Regions from separate parts of the Homo sapiens genome. Here all the other regions are linked to region 1. Evidence: fine-mapped expression QTL. A gene starts in region 1. Each other region holds a variant in brackets. All regions are shown on one strand. Distances are between the middles of the regions.

Region 1 (7,126 bases):
GTGTGTAGGTTCCCCTGTGTGTGTAGGTTCCCCTGTGTGTACGTTCCCCTGTGTGTACGTTCCCCTGTGTGTAGGTTCCCCTGTGCGTGTAGGTTCCCCTGTGCGTGTAGGTTCCCCCGTGAGTAGGTTCCCCTGTGCGTGTAGGTTCCCCCGTGTGTAGGTTCCCCTGTGCGTGTCGGTTCCCCCGTGTGTAGGTTCCCCCAAGCGTGTAGGTTCCCCCTTGTGTAGGTTCCCCCGTGTGTGCAGGTTCCCCTGTGTGTGCGGCTTCCCCTGTGCGTGCAGGTTCCCCTGTGTGTAGGTTCCCCTGTGTGTGTAGGTTCCCCTGTGTGTACGTTCCCCTGTGTGTACGTTCCCCTGTGTGTAGGTTCCCCTGTGCGTGTAGGTTCCCCTGTGCGTGTAGGTTCCCCCGTGCGTGTAGGTTCCCCCGTGTGTGCAGGTTCCCCTGTGTGTGTGGCTTCCCCTGTGCGTGCAGGTTCCCCTGTGTGTAGGTTCCCCTGTGTGTGTAGGTTCCCCTGTGTGTACGTTCCCCTGTGTGTACGTTCCCCTGTGTGTAGGTTCCCCCGTGTGTAGGTTCCCCTGTGCGTGTAGTTTCCCCCGTGTGTAGGTTCCCCTGTGCGTATAGGTTCCCCTGTGCGTGTAGGTTCCCCCGTGTGTAGGTTCCCCTGTGCGTGTAGGTTCCCCCGTGTGTAGGTTCCCCTGTGCGTGTGGGTTCCCCCGTGTGTAGGTTCCCCTGTGCGTGTGGGTTCCCCCGTGTGTAGGTTCCCCTGTGCGTGTGGGTTCCCCCATGTGTAAGTTCCCCTGTCCGTGTAGGTTCCCCCATGTGTAGGTTCCCCTGTGTGTGTAGGTTCCCCCGTGTGTAGGTTCCCCTGTGCGTGTAGGTTCCTCCGTGTGTAGGTTCCCCTGTGCGTGTGGGTTCCCCCATGTGTAAGTTCCCCAGTGTGTAGGTTCCCCTGTGCTTGTGGGTTCCCCCGTGTGTAGGTTCTGCTGTGCATGTAGGTTCCCCTGTGTGTACGTTCCCCTAAGCATGTAGGTTCCCCCGTGTGTAGGTTCTCCCATGTGTGCGGGTTCCCCTGTGTGTGCAGCTTCCCCTGTGCTTGCAGGTTCCCCTGTGTGTAGGTTCCCCTGGGTGTAGGTTCCCCCCATACGTGTAGGTTCCCCTGTGTGTAGGTTCCCCTGTGCGTGTAGGTTTCCCCGTGTGTAGGTTCCCTTGTGCGTGTAGGTTCCCTTGTGCGTGTAGGTTCCTCTGTGTTGGGTCCTTAAACATTAACCAGCTCCTTCCTCCCCAGGCCTGGGCAGGATCCCAGCACACAGAGGAAGAAGCGGAGACTCACGTAGGCATCTCCTGGCCCTCCCAGTCTTCCTGACTGTCTCTCCTGGGCCACGCTGGCAAGTGGCCCCAGAGCGGGCCATACACCGTGCTGGCATTAGCACCCCAGGGTGTGCTTAGCCCTGGGCCCGCTCCCTGGCCCCCCTGGGTGGCTTCCCTGTCACAGTGCAGAAGGCTCAGCTCCCCACATGGGGTTCCAGCCTGACCCTCGTATGACTCAAGCCTGAAGATACTTTGCCAAGGGAAGGAATTCAGGTTTCTTCCTGGAGAAACATCCCAGATCACTGAAGGCTTGTAGTTAAAAGTTTTTGTGTATTCAGGGACGCTGTGCTTTGGCAGGGCCCAAGGCAGAGTCCATGGGTGTCCCTAGTCCATGGGTGTCCCTTTCTCTTGAGGCCTCTGGCAGAGGAAAGAAAGCTCAGCTGGTGGCTGCGGGCTCAGGCTGGCGGGGACCCCCCAGCCGTGGCATCTGGGCTGCCTTTGTGTGTCGCTCCCTCACTCTCTGAACAAGTGTTTGTCACTGCCCACCACGTGCCAAGCTCTGCAGAGGGAGACTCGGGTGCCTGCAGCTCGAGTCCACCTGAGCATCACCGGCAGAGCCGAGCCCCTGGAGACTTAGCCAGACACAGCCCCTGCCCCGGGGGAGCACCAGGCGGGTTCTAACCAAGCAGGACTGGAGGCACAAGCGCTAAACAAGGAAGCCATCAGGGCAATCCAAGGACCCCACGTCAAACCAAACAGGATGGTGGAATGACAGCGGGCGGCGCCTAGGGAATGGGGCAAATGAGCGACGTCCCGGAGCCAAACGTGTCGGGCCCTGCAGTGGGGACAGAGGCGGTGGTCGGAGGGTTGCAAAGGGGGTCGGCAGAGCTGCAGCCAAGCCTAGATGAGCCAGAGCTGATGAGGGTGTCGGGGGAGCAGCCGTGTTGACCCGGGTGCGTGGAAGCCCCTGGAGAACTTTGGCAGGGGCGCTGCAGAGGCTGATTTTGCCTTTGAAGGCCTCACCATGCTTGCCATGTGGAGAAGGCTTCGGGAGGCACGCGGCTGCCTGGACCAGGCTGGGGTGGTGGGGAGAGGGGAGGCACGCGGCTGCCTGGACCAGGCTGGGGTCGTGGGGAGAGGTGGACAGATGTGCAGCCCCGTCTGGAGGCGTGCGGCCGGCGTGCGCTGCAGGTTGGCAGTGGAGTGAGGAACGGGGCTATCAAGGGCTCTTGAGGGTTTCACCCAGACAGCTGGTGGACACGGTGCCATCCAGTCAGAGTGCCCCTTGAGACCCGAGTCTGTGCCAGGCGTGGCATAGTTGAGATACTGGTGAGCTGTCCGGCTTGGAGCCTGCAGGGAGGCCAGGTCAGGGGGCAGGGTTGAGAGCAGCCAAACACCCGGATACGGACATCAGCATTTGAGGCCGCCTGACTGTGCCCAGCTGGCAGGACTGAGGCCTGAATCCAGGGAGGGGATGAAACTCCTGGACAAGCCTTGAGTTTGGGGCAGCACACATGTCATCAGTTGTGAGCCGACCTCTTGAGGCTGATGTTGGAACAATAGTGGCCAAGGTCGGGCACGGGCTGGAAGGGCAGGATCTGCAGTCTCAGGACCCCAGAGGGCCCAGGGAGCTGTGTGTGTGCTGGGTCCTTGGGCCTCTTTGCATCAGGAGTTAGGGAGGTGCAAGTATGTGGCTGTAAGCATGGGGACATTGGGGTGGATGTTTTTGTTTTGTTCTTAGAGACAAGGTCTGGCCCTCACCCAGGCTGGAGTGCAGTGGTACGATCGTGGTTCACCGCAGCCTCAAACTCCCAGGTTCCCAGGCGATCCTCCTGCCTCAACCTTCTGAGCAACTGGGACTGTAGGCACGTACCACCACGCTGGCTCATGTTCTTATTTCACTTTCTGTGTCACTGCATTGCCCACCTCAGCCTCTCAAAGTGCTGGGATTACAGGCCTGAGCCCTGGTGCCTGGCTGGCGATGGGGTATTGGTAGAACCAGGCCTTCTTTGCTGGCCGCCCCCGGTCCTCCTGTTCACTCTGCAAAGCCCTGGAGTCTGCCAGCTGCCCCATCCTCACGTCCTCTTCAGCTGCCCAGGTTGGCTGTCCAGCTGCTGGTCTAACCTCCATCCAGGCCTTTCTGACAGTGAGGTTTAGGGGCTACCTTCCCTAGAGGACTGAGACTTGGAGGAGGGCCAGGTGGGGGCTGGGGCCCACTGCAGTGGGGGTGGGGGAGGTGTGTCTGTGTCGCTCAACATCTGCGAGTCCCCCAGGGACATTGCTTAGGAGGGCTGGCGGCTGTGGGAAAGCGGATGCTGTTTATCCCAGGATCAGCAGGAGAGCCGCCAGATAATAAGGGGATGAAGGGCGTGCCAGCAGCCGGGCCCTGATGTGGAGGTCAGCTGTGATCCAGGGACCCAGAACTCGGAGAGGAACTTTAGCAGGGGAGATGGTGTGAAGGAGACACGGCTCAGGGCAAGCGCCAGAGACCAGGAACCACTTTTTTTTTTTTAAATCTTGGGCTGGGGAAGGGGAAATAAAGTCCTTTGCGGTTTCTGAGTCCAGGGTTCCCTAGACACTGTTGCCTTTGTGTGTCCAGAAGCAATTCAGCGGTTTCCAGAGCAGCATGCTTTTGTGTTCCAGGGCTGGCTGGCCCAATTCCGTCCTGCTTGCAGAGAGGGCCTGGAGCCTGGCCGGGCGCCGCCCTGAGCCTGGGGGATCCTGGGAGAACCTGGACAGCCGTGGTGAGCCCTGCTGCCCTGCTCTGGTGCACAGGACTGGAGTCCTCCAGGCTCCAGGGCAGCAGACACCACCCTCTCCGTGCCTGCTGGTGTTGGGCGGCTTGGAGGCTATGGTTCCTGGGTCCTCGTAGCACATCCTGGTTCTGGGCCAGGACCTGAAGGAGCCACAGTGAAAGAGTGTTTCTGGATGTATCTGAGACAGACGGAGGTAGGGGGCAGGGGGCAGGGGGCAGGGGGACATGGTAGGGCCCATCTGAGTGGAAGCCCCAGCCTTGGGAAAAGCTGCTACTCTCTGGGGCAGTGGTCCCAGCTACCACGTGCTCTTCTGGAGCCATCTTGATCTTGAAAGGCAGGCTCCCTCCCAAGGCCGGGTGCAGGCCAGACCCCACCGGTAAAGCACCTGCGCAGCCCGGGGCCAGGGGTCCAGTGAGGAAGGGTGGAGGCCTCCTGAGAACCTGGCCTGGTCAGGAGGGCCGGCAAGAGGAGGAGCCTCCCAGGAAGCCCCTCAGAACCTGACAGGACGAGAGGAAGGGAGGCCGATCTGAGAGGGAGGGAGGCCCATCCGAGAGGGAGGAGGCCGATCTGAGAGGGCCGCATGGCTCGGAGTTGCAGGGGCCCTGGGCTGCCAGGGGTGGGCCTGTAGGTGCAGGTGGAGGGGCTGGTCCTGGGGAGAGCGGCTGGGCTGCAGGCTGAGGAGCTGGGCTTCCTCCAGGGACCGTGGAGGGGGTGGGGATGGGCAGCTAGAAGTGGGGAGGGCAGGGGCCGTCTGGTTGGGGATGCGCGGCTGCAGCACGCAGGACGGAAGGTGCAGGTGAGACGCAGGTGGGCGGTGTCGGGAGACCCGGGTCTGGCCTGAGGTGCAGCCTGGAGCTATGCTCAGTGTGTAGACGGGCCTTGGTTCCTGCATCTGTAAGTTGGGCGTGTGCTGGGTAATAGTGTCCTCCCCCAAAATTCATGTCCACCTCGTACCTGTGGACCCGACCTTACTTGGAAATGGCTCTTTGCAGATGTCACTGAGATGAAGTCACCCTGGTGTACAGTGGAGCACTCTTCAGTGCAGTGCGGGGGCTGCCCATGTGGCCGTGGAGGGCACCCCTACCCCGGTGCAGGCGCAGGCTGGAGGCGTAGCCCGGGCCCATCCCTGGCGGTGTGTCGCGGAGGGCACCCCTACCCCGGTGCAGGCGCAGGCTGGAGGCGTAGCCCGGGCCCATCCCTGGCGGTGTGTCGCGGAGGGCACCCCTACCCCGGTGCAGGCGCAGGCTGGAGGCGTAGCCCGGGCCCATCCCTGGCAGTGTGTCGCGGAGGGCACCCCTACCCCGGTGCAGGCACAGGCTGGAGGCGTAGCCCGGGCCCGTCCCTGGCGCTGTGTCGCGGAGGGCACCCCTACCCCGGTGCAGGCGCAGGCTGGAAGTGTAGCCCGGGCCCATCCCTGGTGGTGAAGGCTGGAAGGTCCATCCCTGGCAGTGTGTGGTGACATGTGTCGTGACATGGAGTTTGATTCTTAACTGACCGAAGCTTGAAAAGTCTGTCTTTTTGATGGACCCAGGGAGTTGGGTGAGGAGGGTGGTGGAGTCAGTGGGGCTGAGAGCAGGGTCGTCTAGGACCCTGATGTGTGGACGCCCTCCCCAAGGGCCGCTGTGAACCATCCAGCAGGATGACCCTGGGTTTGGGGCTGAGCCGGTGGCTGGGAGAGCAGACTGAGGAGTAGCTGGACACTGGCGGGGCACGCATTGCATTCTGATGGTGACAGGCGGGACACTCAGGGCCTTTGTCCCCTCTCTCATTGCCTCATTTGCTTGCCTGAGGTGATTGGGAAGGCAGCCCTGGCCTCGGAATTACAGCCTCCCAGACAAGGGGGCTGTCCTCTGCCCAGAGCCCTGCAGGCAGCCAAGAGTTCTGTGCGTGTCCAAGCGTGTCCCCTGCTTTCCTTGGGTGGAGGCCAGCTCGGTGCCCTACACAGGGCCTGCAGGCCCCAGCGCCCGGGTCATCCCCTCCGCTTCCCTCTCAGCTGCCGCAACCAGGAGGACTCGCCGGGTTTTTGAAAATGGAAGGAAGTAGGTTTTACATTGCTACACTTCCCCTAGCCCGTTCATCCTTCCTTTTTAAACATTAAAAAGCAGTAAAAATGGTGGTTACCGGGGGCTTGGGGAGGGCATGGGAGTTCCTATTCAGTGAGCAGAGTTTCAGTTAGACAAGACGAGTCCGGAGGCAGCCGCTCAGCATCACAGATGTAATTTATGCCACGGAGCTGCACGCTAAAAACTGGTGAAGTTGGGCTGAGCACGGCGGCTCACGCCTGTAATCCCAGCACTTTGGGAGGCCGAGGCGGGTGGATCACGAGGTCAGGAGATTGAGACCATCCTGGCTAACATGGCGAAACTCCGTCTCTACTAAAAATACAAAAAATTAGCTGGTGTGGTGGCGGGTGCCTGTAGTCCCAGCTACTCGGGAGGCTGAGGCAGGAGAATGGCGTGAACCCAGGAGGCGGATCTTGCAGTGAGCCGAGATCACGCCACTGCACTCCAGCCTGGGCGACAGAGCAAGACTCCATCTCTAAAAAAAAAAAAAAAAAAACTGATGAAATTGGTAATATTTATATTATGTGTGTTTTACCGTAATTAAAAAATATTGTGGGAAAAGAAGTAATAGGGAGGCATTTTAGGAGATTTGGAGAGAGAATTGTTAACGACCACCGTAAGCCCATACTCCCGACGTCTGGCCCCATAGCGCCCGAGTCTCTTCACGCACCTGTTTGCCATAACGACAGTCACAGGAAGGTCCCGGTTTTAGTTGCCTTCATCCCTTTACAAGGACGGGGTCCTGTGTGGGTCCACCAGGGTGCTCCAGGACCCCCTGCCCTGCTGGTCTTGATGGATGGTGTGTGACGTGTTTCCCCCCACCAGGCCTCCACTTCTTGAGCTTGGTCCTAGGGTCCTGGTACTGAGTTGTGGGGTGGCCGGTTGAGGGGGCGTCTGTGTGCTTGCTCTGCCGCATTCCGCAGCCCGGGTTAGCTTTAGTTTCCTTTCTTTATTTTATTTTATTTTTTTTGACACAGAGTCTCACGCTGCCCCCCAGG
Region 2 (7,126 bases), 55 kb after region 1:
AAAAAATTAGCCAGGCATGGTGGCAGGCGCCTGTAGTCCCAGCTACTCAGGGGGCTGAAGCAGGAGAATGGCGTGAACCCGGGAGGCGGAGCTGGCAGTGAGCCAAGATCATGTTGCTGCACTCCTGCCTGGGCGACAGAGCAAGACTCCGTCTCAAAAATAAAATAAAATAAAATAAAATAAAATAAAATAAAAAATTTAGCCGGGTGTGGTGGTAGGCTCCCAGCTACTCGAGAGGCTGAGGCAGGAGAATCGCTTGAACCCGGGAGGTTGCAGTGAGCTGAGATCAAGCCATTGCACTCCAGCCTGGGCAACAGAGCAAGACTCTGTCTCAAAAAAAAGAATCAACAAGTTGAGAATTGGGGTCAAAAAGTCTGACTTGATTGATGAATTTCTGTGAAAATGTCCTACAAAGGCAAAAAATGAAACAAAGGCACAGCTTTATCAGTCCCTTTATAGCACAGATAGTACATGGAACTCTGACCCTGGGGCCCCTGCAGGGAGGGCCTGCCACGTCTGGTCTGGTCTGGCGGGCTGTGCACTGGGGGCAGCGAGACAGCCCCCAGCACTGGGAGGGGCACCCGGAGAGACCGGAACTCCTGACAGCTTTTGCTGCCCAGGGGGGTGCGTTAGCAGGTGTGTGGGGGCCGGCCCCGCCTCCCATCCCTGCATCTGTTGCCAGGTGGGGTCCTGGGGCGCAGTCAGGCCTGGCTCTTCTGAGGTCGTGTTTAGTAGGGGGACTGACCATGATTGTGTCAGGTGACAGTATCGGGGAGAAAACGGAGCTGGTGGAGGGGAACTTGCGAGGGCGTGGCTGGGAGCCGTCTGAGCAGCTGGTCATGGGCGGCCTCTCAGCAGGGATGGGCTGGGCGTGGGGGGGCACCCAGTTGAAGAAGGGCAGGTGGGAGGGGGTTTGGGGAGGGATTGCCATGGAGGGACCTCAGATTTGGTGTCAGGTGTGGGGAATTGGGGCAGAGGAGGCACAGTCCTGAAGTGTTTCAGGTGGGTCAAGAACAGCCCTGAGCCAGGCGGAGTTGGAGAGAGAAGTGAGGGGCATTGGATGGGGGGGTCCTAGCAGAGCTGAGGGGTCTTAGTGGGAGTGGGTGGGGCGCTGGCAGTGGGGCCCTCGCCTGGGGTTGAGACTGTGCAGCACGAATGGGCCCCAGGGGAGCGAGGCTGGGGGTATCCAGGGTGAGGACTGAGCGAGCAGCTGGACTCTCACATCCAGGCTCAGGGTGGAGGGTGCCAATCTGGGAGGTGGGAGGTGCCGGAACCATCACCCTGAGTAGACTGGCATAGCTGCAGAGCTCTAGATGGAGCAGGCTGTGTCCCCTGCCCTCAGGACTCTATGCTGGTATCAAGTTCTTCCTCATTGATTTCATCTTTAAACGCTGCCCGAGGCTGCGCGCCAAGTACGACACGCCCTATATCATCTGGAGGAGTCTCCCCACCGACCCGCAGCTCAAGGAGCGCTCCAGCGCCGCAGTCTCACGCAGGGTGAGCCCGGCCCCCAGCTGCGGGGATGGGGGGATGGGGGGCCACGAAGCCGGGCATCCCCAGGCCCACAGTGCTCTGTTCACCTCCGGCTCATTTAGAGGCTGTTTCTTCAATTTTATAGACTCCTTAAACTTGAGGGTTTTTTTTTTCCCTGTTACCACTGCGGTTTCTGAGGCTCATCCAGCCCCTCCCAAGCCCAGGGCAACACCTGGGGACTGGCCATGATGACTGAGAGCCAGCAGGCCTGGGAGTGACCACTCCATGGGGGTGCCCGGCCCCTGCCATCCCTGACAGTGAGGCTCTGGCGCTGAGACCAGGCAGTTTGAGAAGGGCCCCCTTGGAGCCACAGCCTGGCACTGGGCCATATTTCATTCACAGTCACAGGCCCTCCAGATGTGCAGCACAGCATCCCAGCCAGGACCACGGGGAATGAGCAGGCCTCGGTGCTCCCTTCGGGGTGGCTCAGATGAGTCAGGAGGGTTGCTGGGCTCTCCCCACTGAGGTGAGGTGGCCCTGCCTGGAAGAAGGAGCCGCTCTGGGCCGGAAGGGACCTCGGGAACGTCTTCCCAAATTTGGATCCCAGCTTTTGGGGAGGTGTGTGTGCGGCCAGCACATCTGGGTGCTGCAGGCGTGGGCAGCGGGCCTGACCTCGACGCTGTTTGCCGTTGGCAGCTGCAGACGACCTCGTCACGGAGCTACGTACCCAGCGCACCGGCCGGCCTGGGTAAAGAGGAGGACGCCGGTCGCTTCCACAGCACCAAGAAGGGCAATTTCCACGAGATCTTCAATCTGACAGAAAACGAGCGTCCGCTGGCGGGTATGTGTGCCGTGAGTCTGAGGCCAGGCCGAGCGCCGACACAGACTGAAGGCCCGTGAGGGGGGCGCTGTGGATGCAGGACGGGGTCGCCCTGTGACAGGCCAGAGGAGCCCTCAGGATGGCATTCACATCCCACTGCCCCAGGAGGAGTGCAGGAGCCAGGGGTCATGAGGACTCTGCGGGCTACAGGGGAGGAGGGCGTGCCCGTGGGGAGAGCCGCCCACGCTGCAGCACTCCCCTGACAGCAGGCGTGCAGGCAACACACTGGGGAGAGAGTCCAGGGCGAGGCCTCAGGGCCTGCAGGGCGCTGGCAGGGGGTCTGCCCCTGGTTCCATCGTGTCTGGAGAAACAAGAGCCACCAGGGGACAGGTGACTCAGGATCCTGGGGACAGGTCAGCTTTCCCAAAGGGAGGGCCTGTTAAACTAAACCGGGCAGCTCGAGGTGTGTGATGAGCGGCTGCAGAGGCAGCTGCGGAGAACGGAGCTTCGTCCTCTGCTGAGCCCTGGCCCTGCCGGTCTTGGTGGAGGTGGTGTCCCAGCGCCCTGACCCTGCCGGTCTTGGAGGTGGTGTCCCGGCCACACTGTGACTTCTGTTGCTCCCTGCTCTGCCTGGGTGCTTTTACTTTAAAAACCCTGCCAGTGCCTGTTGAAGAGGAAACATCTGTTTTCCACCCTCTGGGGCCACCTCACTCTTGCCGGCGCGCCTTCCTCTCACTGTGGGTGTGACGTGAGCGCGGTGGGCGGATGTCAGGATCTGAGAGTCAGGCTCCTGGGTCCCAGCGTCAGGTCAGAGGCTGGGTACTTCCAGTGGAAAGTGTGACAGGCGGGCCTTCTCCCATTAGTGTGCGAGAATGGCTGGCGCTGCTGCCTCATCAACAGGGACCGGAAGATGCCCACGGACTACATCAGGAACGGGGTGCTCTACGTCACGGAGAAGTGAGTGCAGCCGTGGGGCCCTGTGTGGCTGCAGGGGAGGGGGCGCAGGAGGCTGCCTAGGCCCTGGGATGGCGTGGCTGGCCCAGTGCAGGTTTTCCTGAGTGGTGGCCATGGCCTCTCCCATGCTCTGCTCTTGCCGGCTGTCTGGGCTCCCAGGGAAAAGGTGTTGTCTCCAAGCCGGACGTGGCCTGGGCTGTACTGCTGCCATCCCTCAGGCTGGCGGGGATGCTGTCTTCTCTGGGGCCCAAGCAGTTCATGGAGACGAGGGGCAGAGTCTCCCAAGGAGGGGACCGTGTGGGGACCTGCTATTGCTGAGGCCCTGAGTCCTTGTTGCCCTGAGTGCCTCATGCAGAGCAGTGGCCGTGAGTGTCTCACTCAGAGCAGTGGCTGTGAATGTCTTATGCAGAGCAGTGGCCGTGAGTGTCTCACTCAGAGCAGTGGCCGTGAGTGTCTCAGAGCAGTGGCCGTGTCTCACTCAGAGCAGTGGCCGTGAGTGTCTCAGAGCAGTGGCTGTGAGTGTTTCACACAGAGCAGTGGCCGTGAGTGTCTCATATAGAGCAGTGGCCGTGAGTGTTTCACCGGTTCTGTGTCTGCTGGGAAGGGAGCACCACTGTCCATCCCACTGGGGGCTGAGAGGCAGCCCCGGGAGACCCCCACCTGGTGGGAGCGTGCTCTGGTTCAAGAGCCAGGCGACGCCTCTGTCCGTTCCCCTTCCAGTTACTTGTGCTTCGAAAGCTCCAAATCTGGGTCCTCAAAGAGGAACAAAGTCATCAAGCTAGTGGACATCACGGACATCCAGAAGGTTGGTGCACCTACCCACCCCCACTAACCCCCGTGTTTTCTTCGTCACCTGACAGAGGCTGGCGAGGCTTTCCCTATAGACTTCTGCCAGCCTCTGTCAGCATCTGGGCGCCGCGGCCACGCTGGCCGGCCATGGTCCGTTTCCTTGACTTGAGTCCCCATGTCCCTGTGGGTCTGCCCCTGCCCTGGGGTCCACTTGCCTGGACCGTGTGTCTCAAAGTGGAGGGGCTGGGTTGGAGCCCAGGAGGTCAGGACCCAAGCCCCACTCTGGCTGCTGTGTTCCCCTCGTATCTGGGACCCTCCCCATAAAGAAAAGCACAGGGGCCCTGAGCCCCTGCCTCGGATGCAGGTTTTCAGGTGGGAGCTCAGATGGTCGCGCCCGCTCTGGGCATTTTCTCAGCATTTTACCGT[A/C]GCATGGAATGAGCAGGTGGGCGTGGCCACAAGTGCCTGTGGTCCCTTGTTTTCTGGGGCAGGGAAGGCTCAGTGAGGCACTGGCAGGCACACTTGGCCCGAGTGGTCAGGGCCCCCAGCTCCCTCCCAGCTCCGAGCGTCCTGGGCATGTCCGCATTGGCACGGCGGGCACTCCCGGCCCCACGGCAGTTGTGGGTCATCTCTCCCACCCGGCTCTGGAAAAAAGCGTGCAGTCAGGTGACCAGAAGGGGTGAGTTCAGGGCTGGGGTCCTTTCCGCCTGCCTCTTGGGATTGGCGGTGCTGACAGATGGCCCTCCTGGTGCCAGGCCCTGAGAGCGAGTTCTGGGGCTGAGTGCCTACCGTCAGCCTCCTCAGGCCGGCTTGTCTCTGACCTTCCTCAGGCCAGCTGGCCGACGGTCTGGGCTGGGGTGGGACAGACCCTTTACAGGTCTGGTGTCTCGGCCACAAAGTGAGGAGGTGTCCACAGGCCCTTACCTTCTGTTGTTTGGAAGTCCCAGGTGCCCGTGGGCCCTGCTGCCTGTGTGCCCAGTGGAGGAGGATGCCCTGGGCCTGTGGAGGGCTGTGCCTCCCTGTCCCCAGGAGAGACCTGTGGTGACGGCCACGCTTTGCCTTTCAGTACAAGGTCCTGTCTGTCCTCCCAGGCTCAGGCATGGGGATTGCCGTGTCGACGCCATCCACCCAGAAAGTAGGTGCCGGGCGGGGGGCCGCCAAGGGGTTGGTGTGGGCCCAGGGGCCTGACTCTGAGCAACCCTGGGACCAGCGTGGGGCAGACAGCCAGAGTTTTAGTTTGGGCAGCAGGGTCACAAAGCCGCCCCCTCCCTCGCAGCAGCTAGAGCCTGGGGCTGCGTCCAGGTTGGGTTGGAAATCTTGCTGGGGCCATCGAGTCACCGGACAGACAGGGATGTTGGGCACAGGGGTCCCCTGACTCAGTGACTTGGGAGGAGGGAGGCACGGGGCTAAAGCCTGGCTCCCCTCTGCCTCTTGGCTCTGTTCCCCTGAAGGCTGGAGCCTGGCTCCGGGTGGTGGGGAGACACCTGTCTTTTGCACCCAGACCCACGTGACTAGCGTGCTGGCCTGGGGCTGGTGTTGGACTTCGTCTCGGTCCTGGTCCTGGCGCCAGCCTGGCTGTGCCATGCTCACTGGTGGCATTTCTTCCCTGCCAGCCGCTCGTGTTTGGTGCCATGGTGCACAGGGATGAGGCCTTCGAGACCATTCTCAGCCAGTACATCAAGATCACCTCAGCGGCAGCGTCTGGCGGGGACAGCTAGTATTGACTTGCCCAGGACGTTGCTGGAATTTTCTTTTTCTTTTTCTTTTTCTTTTTTTTTTTTTACGATTTGGTAGTGGAAACAATTGGACATCCTCATGAGCTTTTGCAATAATTCTCCTGGACCTGTGGTTCTATTGTGTTGACCTCTGCGTTTTATCGACCAAGAAGGGGCCAGGGCTCACAGGGACGGGGGTGCCCCTCTCCCACAGGGCACGTCAGGTGCCTCTGAGGGCCACCCGCAGACTGGGGGAGGGGGCAGAGGCCCTCGGGGGCCCGTGGAGAAGACACACAGGACCCCTGGCCCTGCCCTTCTCCGTTCCAGCCTGGACAGAGAAACCTCTCCAGCCACCCCAAGAGGTTCTCGCAACCTTGTGTCCCGCTCTCCAGAGGCCAGAAGCTCGTCCACCACCAAAGCCATAGCTGAAGAGTGCGGGGCCCTTCCTCCTGGGGACAGAAAGATGTCGTCAAGGAGGGACATGGGGGCCTTTCACCAACCACCGAGAAACGGGCCTGGCGGCCCTCCTTCCTCTTACATGAGACCCTCCTGTGGCATTTGCCCTTGGTGCCGGGCTGGGGCCGGGCGCAGTGACCCTGCCTGCGCTCCACACTCGCTCCACGGGAACAGAGAGGGTGAGAAGGGCCCACCCCTCGCCTGCCCTCAGTGTCTTTGGTGGCACCTTCCTTGCTGGCCTCCAGGGCGCTCAGCACCGCGTCTGTAAGGGCCTGCCTGCTGCTCTCGGCCTGACACGCCGGCCAGGAGGTCTGTAGCTGGGGACCAGTAAGGGCACAGGATGGTGCAGGTAAAAGCACATCTTTCTCACACTTTGCTCTTTGGAAGGCCCAGGAGAACATCCGCGAAGGCTGTTGGAGGTGCTCCGAGCACTGTGGCATGTCTGGCACATGGCCCCCAGGCTGCGGTTGCCTGGGTTGGTTGGGGGAGGAAGTGGGGAGGAGTGTTCCGGGACCATGGTGGCCCAGGCTGCAGCCGCCTTTGGGCCATCCGAGAGGCTCTGGCAGCCCCTGTGCTTTAGGGAGCAACCGTGAGCCGAGCCCAGAGGCCTGGGCCTGCACTGCCTGCAGCCGACATGCGACAGCGTTCCCTCCCCCGCGTGCCTAGCCGGTGCCGGTCCGGGCACAGACCCCCCCAGCCCCCGCCCTGCCCCAGGGAAGCCTGGGCTTCCCGGGAACAAGGTGGCATTTGTGGAGGGAGCGCCCGCAGGCCTGGTCTGCTGGGGCCGCCTGCGCTGGGCTGAAGGGAGGGAAAGGCGGCTTGGGCCTCCTGGAAGGAGGTGGCCACCCCGCGGGCCTGCGTGTCTGCTGGGGCGGATCCCGCAGCTCCCTCAGCTTGTCCTGAGTCCCTTGGGTGTCGTTGA
Region 3 (7,126 bases), 40 kb before region 1:
CGCGAGGCGGTCGAGGAAAGGCATTTCCACCCGGGACGCGGGTTTCCACCGGCAGCCCAGTCCCTGACCCATCTCTAGAAAGGCGGGCGGTCCCGCGGGGCGCGGGCGAGGCCACAGCAGCGAGCGTGCTCCCGCGGGTGAGCCCGTGGCGTCCGCCGTGGCAAGCGCGCGGACGGCGTGGCCGTGGCCGGCGGCGGCCGCGCGTGCGCGTGGGTGCGAGCGGCGGGGGCGCACGTGGCCACCCAAACAAAGGCCGCGCCGCGTGACCGAGCTGGCGCACGCGGACCCGCCAGGGCAGGCGCGCCCCCGCGGACCCCCGAGCCGGCCGCGGGGCGGGGGCGGGGCCGGGGTGGCGCGCGGGGCGCGGCCCCTTTAAGGTGCGGCGCGGGGCGGGGCGGCGGCTGCGCAACGGGGCCGGGGGCGCGCAGACTCCGCGCAGCGGGACGCGAGCGCGCGACCTGGCGCCGCCGCCGCCTCCGCGCTCGTGGCCGGGACCCGCGGGGCCGCCTCCTCCCGGCTCCCCGGCGCCGCTGGGCTCCCGGGCGGGCGGCAGGCGTAGCGCGGCCGGGCGGCCGGCGAGGGGGGCGCCGCGGCGGGTGGATGAGAGTTGGCCCCGATATCCGCTCAGGGTAAGCGGCGCGCGCGGACACCCACCTACCCCGACCTGGTTGCCCCGCGACCACTCTCCCTTTTGGGCTGGCGGCTCGCGACCCAGCTCACTCGGCCGCGCTCTCCCCGCCGCCGCCGCCGCCGCCCGGGCCCGAGCCGGCGACCCTCCGAGCAGGGCCCTGCGCGGGCGCGCCCCGCACACGCCCCCGGGTCCCGCGCGTCACGGCTGCTCCCCGCGGGCACCTGCGGCCGCAGGTCCGGGTTCTGCCCGCCGGCTGGGGGAGACGAGGACATCCCGGGGTTGCGGGGCCCGGACTGGGGTGGGGGTCGCCGGACCGGGGGTCACCGACGCTGGGCCACTGGAGGGGGACGGTATCGGCCCGGGCCCGCCAATGTCGTCCTGCCGATCCACTCCCGGGTGGGACGGGAGAGGAGGAGGGCGCCCCAGCCCCTGCTTCCCTACAGACGACCTCTCCAAAAAGTTGTGGGCGCTTGTCCCCTCCGTGCACCCCACTTTCTGCCCTGTCTTCTCTCCCTTTGTTCGGGATGTTGAGCTCATGGGGCTCTGCTGGGGCGGGCTGGCACCTTGGCTGTAGCCCAGGCCCGTGCGCCTGCCAGAACGTGGGGTGCAGTGTGGCAACCCCGGCCCGAGGCCCCACATGTCTAGAGCAGGACCTGCACCCCTGCCAGGTCCTGGACAAGGGAGGGAGGAGAGCCAGTTTGTTCTCAGCCGGGTGGGCTGGTGCCCCTGCCCTGTTGGCTGTGTGGCAGAAGGTGCAGCAGTGCCCCGGGGCCAGGGACCTGAGTGTGACTCCCCCAGAGCCAAGTCCACTTTTTCGGCTATTGTCAACCCTGCATCTCCTGAGGTAGGAAAGATTCGGTTTGGGGGAGACCTTTTGCAGGATGGGGTTCCCTTCTTGCCTGCCTTGTGTGGGTTAGGAAGAAAATTCAGAGGTGTCTCTCCTACATGCCAAAAAGGAGGTGCCTGAGTCCCAGCCCAGTGCAGCCCTGCCCTGGTGCTGGGCCTGGGAGGGAGGTCAGGGTCAGGGCTCTGTTGCCTCAGAAGTCGAGGGCAGCACTCGAGAGAGGAGTCTGGGACTTGCCTCCCTCACCCTCCTGCTCTGTGACCTTGGGCAAGGTAGTGAGCCTCCTGGGCCTCAGTTTCCTCACTAGCAAGTGGGCAGGGGCAGGTAAGAGGATCGAATGGGGTGATGTGGGCCTCCTCAGGCTGGGCTCGCCCTGGGTTGGGGTTCAAAATGGGTTTAGGAGGTCAGTCATGGCCTCTGCCCCGGGCGCTGTGGCTGAGCCTGAAGTCTGAAGTCTGTCTTCCTGACTTTTGTGTCCCAGGCCCATTTGGGGATGCACAGTCTGGCCAGGGTGTGTGTTCAGTTGCTGCCTCTGCCCCGTGCTGGGGTGAAACCACGTTCCCCTGTTGTTAGCTGGGACTCCCCAGATGAGTGACCTCAGTAACCCTGCCCCTCCTTCCTGCTGCACACCCTTCCGAAGACCCCTGCCTGGTCCAGGAAAGGGGCCCTGCCTGTCTTGCCTTGCTCCTGCCTTGGCAGCCATGTGGACCCTTCTGCAGCACTTTGTGGTCCCGGGGCAGACCTCGAAGCCCCACAGTCCTCACCGTGCTGGGCTCACAGGGAGATGCAGCTTGGTCCTGGAGCCTGGGAAATTGGGCACCTGGGGTCTCAGTGAGCCACCAGCCCTCTGCTCTGCTGCTCTTTCCTCTCAGCTGCCCCTATGGCTGATGCGTGGAGTGCGGCTGTCCCAGCCATGCAGCCTGGGGGCAGGCGGGGCCTGTCCGGTGATGTCTGTCTTGCACTCTGGAGAGCACGGGAAAGTCTCCAAGTTGTGGTGTGTTTCCACATAGCCCTGGGAGGCTGTTTATTCTGGGTCTCCTGCTGAGGGAGGTGGAGGACCCTTCACTGGGAAAGAACCAGGTGGTCTCTCTCCAAACCACCAGCCTTCCAGGCCTTCCCCTTAGTACCCTCCTCTTATCTGTGGAGCCCGGCGCCGGCGTTAGGTGATCTTTGCTCTCCGCTCTCCCAGGCTTCACCTTCACCAACTGGAAAACGAGGGAGGAGAATCAGAGCCGGTTTTCCTGAATCACCATTTCTGCTGTAGAATAGAATAGAATAGTGGTTCAGGCTCAATGAAAAGAAAGTGTTATTGGAGCCTAGTGAGCCTCTGCTGCCAGGGAGGGCTGCCAGCCTGAAGCCTGTTTTCTCTTTGGAAGGAGTATCAGAGCAATGTTAGACATGTTACAGAAACAGCAGCACCCCACTTGACGGGTCCTGGTGACTTTCCTGTTATGGGAGAACCTGGGGCCCCGATAGTCCCATGATGTGATCTGTGTTAGTGATTGTGCCATCCGTGTGCCCCCTCCCCTCCCTGGGGGCCACATGAAGCCCCCTTCCATCTCCCCATGTTTCTCTGTTTGGGTATTTCTCTCCGGTAGCCGAATCTACTGGGGTTT[A/G]TTTGGCATTGGGGTTCCAGTCCTGTCATGACAGGGCTCCGGCCAGGGGCTCATTTTAGGAGGCTGCCCCATCTCGGGGAGCTGGGGAGGCGTCCCTGTATGTGGGCTTCTGTGTGTCAGGTTTGGGGTCTCCTGCCTAGTGGCCATGGTGGGGACTTGGGTATTTACAGAGCTCCTGTTGGTGTGGGCGTGTGCTGGCTGGGAGGGAAGACACCAGGGACTGGCTGGGTGGCCTGGTCACCCCCTGCCTGAGTTCCTGCCTCCTCCCCTGCAAGGCGGCCCAAGAGGCTGCTGCCTGGCCTCTTTAGGGGTAAGGAGACTGTCTCTGCAGAAAGCCCGGGGCAGCAGGGACAGTGTTGGGGTGTGTGGCAGAGCATCCCTGCTCCGACAGAAATTGACAGTGAATTGAGGGAGAGAAGCTGTGGCCGGGTTTAGTGAGTAACAGGCAGAAGGCAGAGGGTGCTCGCTGGGAAGCAGCGTCTCTTGCCTGGCTTGGAGATGGTCATCTGCTGGGCGCCTCCGAGGCCAAGTGGACCACTCACAGTGCTTTCGAAGGCCTCTGGTTTGGGCATCCCACAGGCTGGCTTGGGGTCTCTTTGGCACCACGGTGGGTTTAGATCTGCCTTTTCTTTGCCTTTTGGTGGCACAGCAATGGTCCTGAAAAATACTGCTTGTAAAGGAGTAAAAGTTCAAGTCTTCCACCGTCAGGTGTGGCTGGGGGGTCTGAGAGGAGGCCTGGATCTCCCAAGGGGACAGTTATGTGAACAGAGTGTCACAGGCCTAACCCAGCCCAGCGGGTGGGGCCCAGGCCAGCCTGTCACCTGCTTGGAGCCCTTGGCTGCTGGGGATATGTAATAGTTTAACTTGAGAACTTAGAGGCAGGTCACTCAGACTCTTAGAGACAGAGGTGGCGCAAGAAAATGTGGGTTTCGCCGGGCGCGCTGGCTCACGCCTGTAATCCCAACACTTTGGGAGGCCGAGGCGGGCAGATCACCTGAGGTCGGGAATTCAAGACCAGCCTGACCAACATGGAGAAATCCCCACGTCTACTAAAAATACAAAAAATTAGCCGGGCGTGTTGGCGCATGTCTGTCATCCCAGCTACTTGGGAGGCTGGGGCAGGAGAATCGCTTGAACCCGGGAGGCAGAGGTTGGGGTGAGCTGAGATCGCGCCATTGCACTCCAGCCTGGGCAACAAGAGCGAAACTCCATCTCAAAAAAAAAAAAAAAAAGAAAGAAAGAAAAAAGAAAATGCGTGTTTCCCTAATTGGAGAAAGCCCTGTTGTTTTGCCTTTGGTATCTCGGCATGTGGCAGAGGCCTGGGCGGACACTTTGGGCTGGTAATTCGCCACTAATGACAGTCCCGTCTACAGGGCTACTGTTCTGATTGTTTGGTGTTTGAGTTATAACCTAGGGTTGTGATTATGTTTAAGCCCAGTGATTAAAGTCCCCTGTGGTTACACAGGAAAGGCAGGAAGTACCGGCCTATCAAAAACATTAATAATAGTAATAGAAATCACTCATTCTGCACAGCAGGCCTGCGCTGAGTGTTTCACACGAATTGTCTCAACCAAGTCTGCAGAGCACACAGCTTCACCCCATTTTACAGATGAGGAAACTGAGGCACCGGGAGGCAGTGCCACTTGCCTAAGTCCCCAGTTCGTTCCCGAGCAGAGCTGGGATTTGCACGTGGGTGGCTTTGCCCCCAAGGCTATGCTCATAAACATTGCAGCCTTTCTGCCTTCCTGATAACCCTCCTCTAAGGGGGGTTTTGTGAGAGAAATATCAGCAATAAACTCAAAGTCATGATGAGACTTCTCTTTTTGCTGTCAAATGTGCAGTAAATAGCAAGATTCGGACAGCATGTCCTGCTCAGGGCCAGACAGCCCTCTAAGCATGAGACATGATTTATTTTCGTACCAACTGGAGGTAGGTGCTCTTGTTAGCTGCATTTCACGCAGGAGGAAGCCCTGGCACAGAGCCACAGGTTGCTGCGTGGTAGAGGTGGGTTTGGACCAATGGGCTGTGCTTCTAACCTAAGCCCCATATGCACGGGGGTTGGGCGGAGAGCGTGCTTGATCTTGCTGCTGTGTGTTCTTGGGCAAGACACCTAACCTCTCTGGGCCTCAGTTTGGTCACCTGTAAACGAAGGCCTTGGCCTAGGGTATAGAAGCCAGAGCTTGAGAGCTGGCTCTGGCCTGAGATGGCCGCGTCTGCACCACCTCCCACAGGGAGGCCCAGGTGGGTGGAGAGGCCTGGCTGCCACTTCCCTAGAGGAAGCAGGTCTACTGAGGAGCAGTGCTGGGGCCTTGGCTGGGGCTGGGTGGGGCTGGGTGTGGAGGCCATGGGTGGTCGAGGAGTGAGGGCTTCTGGGATGCACTTTGCAGTGGCCGAGTCACTGCCCTCTGTGAAGTGAGGTCCAAGGAGGCAGAGCGTGGGGCTGCTGGGAAACCGTGAAGCTTTGTGCTTGGTGAATTGTTACTTGTCCCTGGGGAACAGGAGGGACAAGAGACTCTGCTTGGGACTCTGTGCCACCAAACTCCCGAGAAGCTGCAGTGGGAGAAGCTGAATGCTGGGCAGCGGGCGGTTAGGAGGCTCCAGGAAACGGCTCAGCCTCTCTTGGTGGGTTCCCCTGCCGGCCGTTCCTGGGACCTCTCTGCTCCACGTCCCCCCTCCAGGGAGGCCTCCCATGAGTGCCCCAGCTGTGCCTCTGCTGTCACTGCTCTCCTCTTCCTGAGGTTCTTGTTTGTCTACTGTTTACCACGCTTCCCTTCTAGAAGGTGGGCTCCTGAAGTTAGGGGTCTCTGCTCATGTCCAGCGACCTGGAGCGGCACCTCATTATGCCTGGTATCCTGGGACCCTGGCTCGGGTCTGAGCTGGGCTGTGGAGTTGGGTAGGGCCAGGAGCCAGGCTGGGAGTGAATTTGTTTGTTCCTCACTCTTGGTGTTGACCTTGGCCACCTGGCTGAGGTGTGTTTGTCAGCGTCTTTATTGAGGTGTAATTCACACATCATACAACACACTCATTGAAAGTGCACAGTTCACGGACTTCTAGTACATTCACCAAGTTGTGCAGCCATCACCACAATCGAAACCCAAACAGGAACCTGGGCCTTCTAGACACTTTAGGCACTCCCTGGACCCTTCCTCCCTGCCTGTGGTGACCACCTTTCTCTCTCTTTTGTCTTTTGAGATGGAGTTTCGCTCTTGTTGCCCAGGCTGGAGTGCAATGGTGCGATCTCAGCTCACCACAACCTCCGCCTCCCGGGTTCAAGCGATTCTCCTACCTCAGCCTCCCAAGTAGCTGGGGTGACAGACATGCACCACCATGCCTGGCTAATTTTGTATTTTTAGTAGAGATGGAGTTTCACCATGTTGGTCAGGCTGGTCTCGAATTCCTGACCTTAGGTGATCCATTCGCTTCGGTCTCTCAAAGTGCTGGGATTACAGGTGTGAGCCACCACACCCAGCCAACTCTATTTTTAAAAAACTGTTTTAGATTTATAGAGAAATTGCAGAGATAATACAGAGTTTCCCAATTATCCCTACCAACAGTTGCAGTTTGTCTGGTGATTAACATCTTACATTAGTATGATAGGTTTGTTACAATCCATGGACTAATATTGATACATTATCATTAGCCAAAGTACATAGTTTGTTCAGATTCATTAGGTTTTACCTAATGTCCTTTTTCTGTTCCAAGACTGCATCTAGGGTCCCAGATGACATCTAGCTGTCATGTCTCTCTAAGCTCCTCTTTGCTATGACAGCTTCTCAGACTTTTCTTAGTTTTGATAACTCTGACAGTCTTAAGAAATAGTAGGTGTATTGTGGGATCTCCATCCATTGGAATTTGTCTGTTTGAACAATTGGAATTCCTCTGTTGGAATTTGGATGTATTTCTCATGGTGCGACTGGGGCCCTGGCTTAGCGGGAGGAAGACCACAGGGGCATGGTGCCCTCTAACCACGTCACGCCAGGCGCATACCTTCGATGTGGCCCGCGGCTACTGGTGCTGACTTGGCCACCCACCTGA
Region 4 (7,126 bases), 38 kb after region 1:
GTCAGTGGGCGTGTGACCCCTCGGAGGAAGGGTCCCCAGGCTCCTCCTGCCTTGGGGCATGGACCCGCCCACCAAGGGCTTCAGGGCCAGCCCGGGCTCACGCAGTGGGTTCACATGCTCCATGCTGCTCTTGGGGACCCACCCAGGCACCCTCTCAGGGCAGGGTGTTGTCCCCTCTGTTCATGGTGGTGTCCCGGCGCCTTGGCAGAGCCCGGCGTGTGATGATTACCTGAGTATTTCTGACGAAGGTGTGCCAGAGCCGGCCCTCAAGTGGCTCCACGAGGGCGGGGGGCTGGGGGCTCGTGCCACATGCAAGGTTGGCAAGGGGCTGGGTGGAGGTCCCTGCAGGGGGTGGGGTTTGTGGACTGATCCCCGTGTTAGGGCTGTGACACCGAATTCCCAAGTCCCCGCCTGCCTCCACTCCGTGCACGGCCCGCTGGTCAGCACATCTGCCCTCCCTGCTAGACGCACTACGTGAGAACTGGCCAAGCTCCCCTCCCAACCACTCTCCCTTCCCCACATCTTGCTGGTTTCTCCTTGGGCCAGGCTGGGTCTTGGGGCCAGAACAGATGGTGACACCGGGGTGGTCCCTCCTCCGGAACCTGTGGGGTGTGTTGGGCACAAGTCAGGGAGGCCTGCAGGTAATGGAGGCTTGGAAACGTCACACTGTACCAGGAGGTTGTGTGCCATTTCTGGGAATCCCCACCCAGCACACGGAGTGGGAATCATGTCCCCAAGAGGAAAGAGCAGGACCCGTGAGAGAAGATGACAGAAGGCTACGCCAGATGGGGGGGCTGTTGGGGAAGTCACTCGGGGAAGTGGTATTGGGGTCAGGACTGAGGCTGAGGGACAGCTTACCCTGGAGGGTGGAAGAGAAGCTTCCTCGGGAGCAGGGCCAGCACATGCAAAAGTCCTGGGGCAGGCCCGACCCTCGGCAAATCTGAATATTTTCTGGACATTTGAGGACCTAAAAGCAGGTCTCTGTGGCTTAAGCCCAAAAAGCAAAGATGAGGGGTGGTGTGGAGGGTGCTGAGGCTGGGAGTGGGTGGGTGGGGGCCTCGGGAGGGAGCTTCAAGCTGGGAAGTTGGATTCATTGCCAGCCCGGTGAGGAGTTCTAAGCGGGAAAGCAACAAGTTCTGGCTTGTGCTTTACAAGCAGCCTTGGACCTCAGCTTGGAGCCGGACGGGAGGGTGTGCCAGGAGCTGGGAGGCCGGTTAAGAACATGGGGATGGGGCTGGGGCAGCTGAGAGACCAGCAGAGTGGATGGATCTGGGATCTTGGAAGAAAGAACCCCAGATGTGTAGGGGGTGAAGGGCCCCCGCCCAAATGTGGCTGGCACTGCTCCCCTCTGCTGTAAAGGAGCCAGCCGGCCGCCCAGAGAGGGCTGGGGGGTAGCTCCCTCAGCCCTGGAGACGTGTCCCCCACAGCCCTGGGTCAGGGGCCCTGCAGCTCCTGCCACCTCCTTCCTGCTGCTCTGAACTGGAGCCCCAGGCCGGGCTGGACCCTGCCCCTAATTCTGACCCAGAAGCCTCCCCAAGGCCCTAGGCAGAGGCCACCTGCCTCCCTTCTGACCCCGCCTTTGCTCAGCTCCGGGACTGAGCACTTGGTACCTTGCAGCCTGTCCTGAGCCCTGGGGAGGCACCGGCTTCAGCTAACGCTCTGCCTGGCCATGTCAGCGGGTCGGGGACCTCCGTCCGCGGAGAAAAGTAGCCGTGCCAGGGCCAGACGCTTCTCCCCAGAACGGAGGCGGGGCGGGGAGGGGGAGCTCTGGAGGGAACCAGCCTGATGAGACTGGGCAGCCCGCAGGGACAGGCCCAGTGCCCCCCACCCCAGCCTCCACGGGGAGGGTCTTCTCCAGGCCAGCTCAGCTGCCCTGGGGGGCTCTCGGGAGTCCAGGATGCTGAAGGACACTGAAACCATGCTTGGAGAAGGGCCGATCCCAGCGGGCCGGGGAGCAGGGCAGAGCTCCAGCACCCACACTGGGCAAGTGGATCCTGGCCCTTGGTAAATTCGAATATTTTCTCTCTGGTTAGTAACAGCGAGTAACAGCATCCAGCACCCCCAGTGGGAGTGGGGCTGGTGAGATGCAGGTGCCTGTCTCTTCCCTTTTGGGTACCGTGAGCCTGTGGCTGCCGGGCAGGAAGGTGTGCTGACCTTTGGCTTCTGGGTTTACTGACCCTAGTCCACCCGCGGCTGCTCCCTGCCTGGGCACGGCCCCCTGCTGTTTCTGTACGGCTACTCCTGGACATTGGCTGGGACTGGGGCCTGAGGCTGTCATACTGCCCTTGGCCCCAGTTTTGGAGTCTTAGGTATGGCCCTGTGGCCCCAAGTCATGTGGTGAGGTGTCCAGGACAGGAAAGGAAGCTACTGGGGTCACTCCCACCCTACCCAGAAAGAAACTTCCAGGCTTAGAAGCCTGCCTTCAGCCTTGGGCTGCTGGCCAGACCCCCAAGGGTTCCTGCCTCACGCTGGTGGGGTCTGGCTGCTGGCCCTGCCCAAGAACCTGGGTGAATTCATCAGCCACGTTCCTTTGTCTCAGGAATATCTCCTGGGACTCCAGCAAACGCTCTTCTCCTGCTGCCATTGCCATTTTATAAGGTCTCAGCGTGTCCGCCCCATGGTCAGTGTGGTCTGTGCAGTTGAAGTCGAGGCTGACTGATCTGGACCCTCAGCCACCATAGGCCACAGCCAGCCCTCAGCCACCATGGGCCACAGCCAGCCCTCAGCCACCATAGGCCACAGCCAGGCAGCCTTCTGGGGAGAGACAGCACTTAGGTGACCCTCAGCTGGGTTCTGCAAGCCACTGCTGCCCCGTAAACCAGCATTGTTCCACCTGAACTTAACCGTGACCTTGGCCCTGGGGCCACCTGCCTGAGCCTGTCAAGGAGACAGGGTTGGGCTGGGCAGGGGACACCACACAGAGGAGGGTGGATGGGCTGGGGTGGGGAGCGCCTGGGCAGGGTCTTGTCAGTGGCCCAGGCCTCTGAGAAGGACCGAGGACCTGTGGGCGTTCACAGGTGCCAGCTCTCTGCTCTCATC[G/A]GTCTGTTGCTCTTGTTCTTCATGCGTGGAGCCTGTGCCAGGCCCTGGGAGGGCAGTGGGGGAGAAGCAAGGGCCTCAGGCTTGCCCTTAGGTGACCCAGCGGTGTTGGTTTTAGGAGGAAGAGGCAGGGATGGGGCAGAGGAAGCGGGAGAGAGGCCGGGTCCCCGTCTCTCCTGTCTTTAAGTGGTAGAAGTGTCCTGACTGCCAGAGGCTGCCTGCACTCCCTGGCTCCTGGCCCCTTCCATCCTCAGTCTTCCAGTCTCTCCGACCTCTGACCTCTGACCCTGCCTCCTCCCTCTGCCTGGATGCTCTTTCCCAGGGTCTGTGGCCTCGCTGTGTTCCCTCCAGGCCTTGACTCAGAACTCACCTTCTCCCGAGGCTTTCCCAGAGCAGCCCTGTGTCCAGCCTGCCCCGTGCTCTTCTCAGGCCCCCTGGCCAGCTTGAGCTGTGGGCTGTCCCCGCTGGCCCAGGGCCTTTGCTCTGCTGCCGACGCGTCCCAGAACCTCACCCAGCACATGGAGGCGCTGGGTGGGTGTGGTGGGCTGGCCAGGTGTGGTCAGCGTCCTTTCCGCAGGTGTCCTCAGCGTGGCGGTGCTTGGTGAAATGGCTTTTGTGTTCTGTGTTGCACTGTTATGAAGCATAGTGAGGAAATTCACACCCTTGCTTCACCCACCTCTTGCCCCAGTCATGTAAGAGGAGCCCCGTTACTAGCTCCTGCCCAGGAGGAAGGGCTGGATGGGGACCAGTTCATGTCCTGCTGTGAGCGCCCCGCACCCTGGAGGAAGGTCAGGTGCTCAGGTCCGCTTACGGAGCAGAGACCCCTCTGCTGTTTCTGAGTCAGGCACCCCTGCCCCAGCATCCCAGAGTCGGGGTCGCGTGGACATGAGCGATGGTCACCTGGCCGTTCTCTCCCCCATAGAGGAGGAGCTCCGGAAGCTGCGAGAAGAAACCAACGCGGAGATGCTGCGGCAGGAGCTGGACCGCGAGCGGCAGCGGCGGATGGAGCTGGAGCAGAAGGTGCAGGAGGTGCTGAAGGCCAGGTACCGCGCCTTCCTCGGGGCCCTGGCCTGTGTGCGGCTGCCCCAACCCCCCACCCCACCCGCCCCGCCGTCCTCTGCTGCACCCATAGCGTCTTGGCAGCATCATTCTTGGCCCTGGAGAGGCCTGAGTGTGAGGGTGGGCCCGGCTCTGACTGCCCAGGTATAGGTCCTGCCTGTGCCTGCATGAGCTGTGGTCTTGGGAATGTGTCATCTTCCTGTGCCTCTGGCGGTCTGGAAAAGGGTGCACAGGTGCTCCTGCCAGCCCCCAGGCCTGGGGCCAGGCCAACTGAAGAGAGGCTTGGCATGGGGCCTGCAGAGCCCCAGAGCCACCTCATGGCTCTGATCCCGGCCTGCTGGTGACCCCATTCTGTACATCCACCCAGTGCCCCACCCCGGGGGCCAGCCCGGCCTCTTAGGATCTTCCCAGGACCTGCCTTCCCAGTGCTGCCTGTGCGTGTTCCCATGCCCCCTGTCTGCCCCAGCCACGCTGTGGCCCCCGCCCCCCTGCCCCCATCCTAGCAGTATCATGTCCTGGGCGCCAGTGCCGCCCTGGCTCCTAGAGAGGCATGTCTGCACCTGACATCTTTGCTCTTGTTTGTGGGTCCCATGTGGGACCCTGAGTGCTCACAGTCTCCTCCCTCACCCTGCCCTGCGCCTCACAGTGCCGCCAGCAGGAAGCAGGTCATTCAGGACCCCAGCGCAAGTTACAAAGCCAGTGCCCTCCTGTCTCGCTAACACCACGAGGCTCCGTGTCCCTCTGCACAAGTTCAAACTGGTGCCTGGTACATGAGGCCAGGGAGCTCAGGCCACTCACCTCTGGCTCCCAGGCCTCCCGCTCAGCCTCCACTCCAGCAACCTCCTGCTTCGGCCTCCCTCTCAGCCTCCACTCCAGCAGCCTCCTGCTTCGGCCTCCCTCTCAGCCTCCACTCCCTCAGCCTCCCCCCTCAGTCTCCACCCTCAGTTTCTGCCCAGCCTCCCCCCAGCATCATCTTCAGCCTCCGTCCTCAGACTCCACTCCCTCAGCCTCCCCACTCAGGTTCCACTCAGCCTCCCTCCAGCCTCCACTTAGCCTCCCTCCAGGTCTCCCACCTCAGCCTCCCACCACCATTGGCCACACCTTTGTCTGTGGCCCCCATGACCTGCATGGATGGCTGTCACCAGTTAGGGAGGCACACGGCATCTCTGGGACACCCCAGCTGAGCACTGCCTGCTATGAGCGCTCCGGGGGCCGTGTGTCATTGTCAGGACTCCAAGTGTCGCTGCTTAGCTGGCCCTGAGGAAGCGGCTCCCTTCAGCACCCTCAGGTTTAGTGTGTGGGAAGACGGGGGATCCGCTGGGCTGACTCCCACTTCTTCCTTGCCCGCCTCCTGCAGGTCAGCATGACCTTGTGGAGTGCCCTGGGGGGCTCATGTGGGGGCTCATGTGGGGGCATCCAGCTGGTGTGGGGGAGGGAGAGGCCTCACTTTCCTATTCCGCCCTGGCAGAACCTCCCAGACCAGAAATGGGTGCATGGGCCTCGGCAGGCGCTTTACCTGATGCTGAACCTTCTGGGAAAATCCACAGAAGCTCAAAGCTTAAATTACATTTAATTATGTAGAGTTGCAACAGAGACCTGACCTGCCACGCTGGGAGATCCCAGGGACAGGTGCGGTCCCCAGGCATTTGGCCACAGTGCCATCCCCGCCACGGGACGCTGCTTCTCCCCCGGTGGCTAAGGTGGCCTGAGGCTGTCCCCGTGGCCCTGCTCCCTGTGTTCTGTTTCCCATCCTCTCACTCCCGCCAGCCCCACTCCAGGATCTGGTCCTCATCTTTTACCAAAGCCCCTTGGTGGCAGGTGTGCCCAGCCCGGGTCAGCTGTAAGAACGCAGGGAGCCCCATCTCGCACAGTCTCTGCCTTGGGAATGGGTGGGGAATGGGCAGTGAAGGAACATCCAGGCTGTGACCCAGGAAGTGGAAGCTGAAGGTCCTGGGAGCATTAAGGGCTCTCCCCTGCTTTACATGGGGGCGGCGCTTAGGAACCTTCTGGAAGCCTGAAGGAGGAGGGGTGAAGGAAGAGCAGTCCCAGGCAGAGTGACCTCCTCTTTCCTTGTCGTCCTGGTGCAGATCTGGGGTGGGTCTGGGTGGCTGTGGTCTGTCCAGGGTGGGTAGGTGTGTGAGGGCACACACAAACATGCAGACACATGTGCGCACACACTGCACACACACATACCACACACTCTGAAGCTGCAGGATTAAAGCACAGCAGTTCTGTTTATGCAAACCTCTATTTTGGTTTTTAAGAAAATTCTCAGAAAGTCACCTTGGTTTAAGGCTACTTGTCAGTAGGCAGAGATTCTCTCCATTGTGGATCCAAAGTCCCCTGAAAACCTCACTGTCTGCTTCCTGCCCGCTGCTTACCTGGCCGTGCCCTGTGTGCCCTGTGCTCCGCCCTCTGTTCTCTTCTCAGGGTTTACTCCTCCCCCAGCTTCCTCCCTCCCCACTCCCGCTTCCCAAGAGTTAGGAAGGTTAGGGGCGACCACACAGCACTTGGCCCGGTTCTGTGCTGCACCTGCTCACAGGCCTTGGCTGGAGGGGCTGGGTGTGGGACGGAAGCAGACCCTAGTGGCCGTCTAGTGCCCCTGCCCAGTCCAGGCAGGTCGCTGGAGTAGGCTGAGCTGGGAGCTGGGTACAGGCTGCTGACAGGTGGCACCCAGCCTGTGGCCTGGCTTGGTGCCTGATAAACACATGTGTGTTGATCAGTATCTTTTCATTAGCAGACGGGTTGGTGATATGAGAGTATTCTGAGTTTAATGATGTTGAAAGAAGCAAGTGTGCTAAAATGAATAGGAAAGGAAAGAGTGGTGAAAGATGCTGGTTGTTTAAAAACAAAACGTGTGCCTGTTAGGAAGGCAGCTCTGTGCTTGCCTGGATACGCTCGGAACCAGCATTTCAGCAGTGGAGACTCTGGAGAGAGCCCTGCTGTCCCTGACCTCTCCTGTGCAGTACACGGTCGCGAGAGCCCTCGGGGGTGCCTGACTGGGCATGGAGTTTGGAACTAACAGACCTCT

Direction of the effects. Alleles are on the strand shown, and positions count from the first base shown. SD is a standard deviation of normalised expression in the study named. Not every link is listed here.
In carriers of allele A in region 2, the expression in fibroblasts of the gene that starts at base 4,079 in region 1 tends to be lower than with C alone (small effect, 0.19 SD a copy in GTEx).
For the expression in thyroid of the gene that starts at base 4,079 in region 1, allele A in region 4 goes with a lower level than allele G (moderate effect, 0.41 SD a copy in GTEx).

The links. PIP is the estimated chance that this variant, and not a neighbour inherited with it, causes the effect.
Region 2: its variant is the best candidate, but not a certain one, in a credible set for the expression of GRAMD4 in fibroblasts (GTEx, PIP 0.81).
Region 3: its variant is the best candidate, but not a certain one, in a credible set for the expression of GRAMD4 in whole blood (TOPMed, PIP 0.76).
Region 4: its variant is the best candidate, but not a certain one, in a credible set for the expression of GRAMD4 in thyroid (GTEx, PIP 0.90).

The regions. Positions count from the first base shown.
Region 1 is chr22:46,616,308-46,623,433 of GRCh38, forward strand. GRAMD4 (GRAM domain containing 4) reads left to right here and starts at 4,079. Exons shown (of 19, transcript NM_015124.5): 1 at 4,079-4,258. RefSeq lists enhancers at 2,111-2,878, 5,307-5,818.
Region 2 is chr22:46,671,501-46,678,626 of GRCh38, forward strand. GRAMD4 (GRAM domain containing 4) reads left to right here. Exons shown (of 19, transcript NM_015124.5): 14 at 1,343-1,497; 15 at 2,170-2,314; 16 at 3,157-3,250; 17 at 3,968-4,052; 18 at 5,100-5,168; 19 at 5,647-7,126. The coding sequence ends at 5,751. Among named protein-coding and RNA genes, the nearest start is that of GRAMD4, 55 kb to the left of the region's middle. RefSeq lists enhancers at 2,703-2,782, 2,983-3,132, 3,173-3,232. The variant A/C (reference allele first, on the strand shown) is at 4,463.
Region 3 is chr22:46,576,662-46,583,787 of GRCh38, forward strand. It overlaps a transcript of GRAMD4 not described here. Among named protein-coding and RNA genes, the nearest start is that of LINC02925, 39 kb to the left of the region's middle. RefSeq lists a silencer at 387-586 and enhancers at 5,187-5,266, 5,985-6,084, 6,621-7,126. The variant A/G (reference allele first, on the strand shown) is at 3,092.
Region 4 is chr22:46,654,229-46,661,354 of GRCh38, forward strand. GRAMD4 (GRAM domain containing 4) reads left to right here. Exons shown (of 19, transcript NM_015124.5): 4 at 3,959-4,079. Among named protein-coding and RNA genes, the nearest start is that of GRAMD4, 37 kb to the left of the region's middle. The variant G/A (reference allele first, on the strand shown) is at 3,040.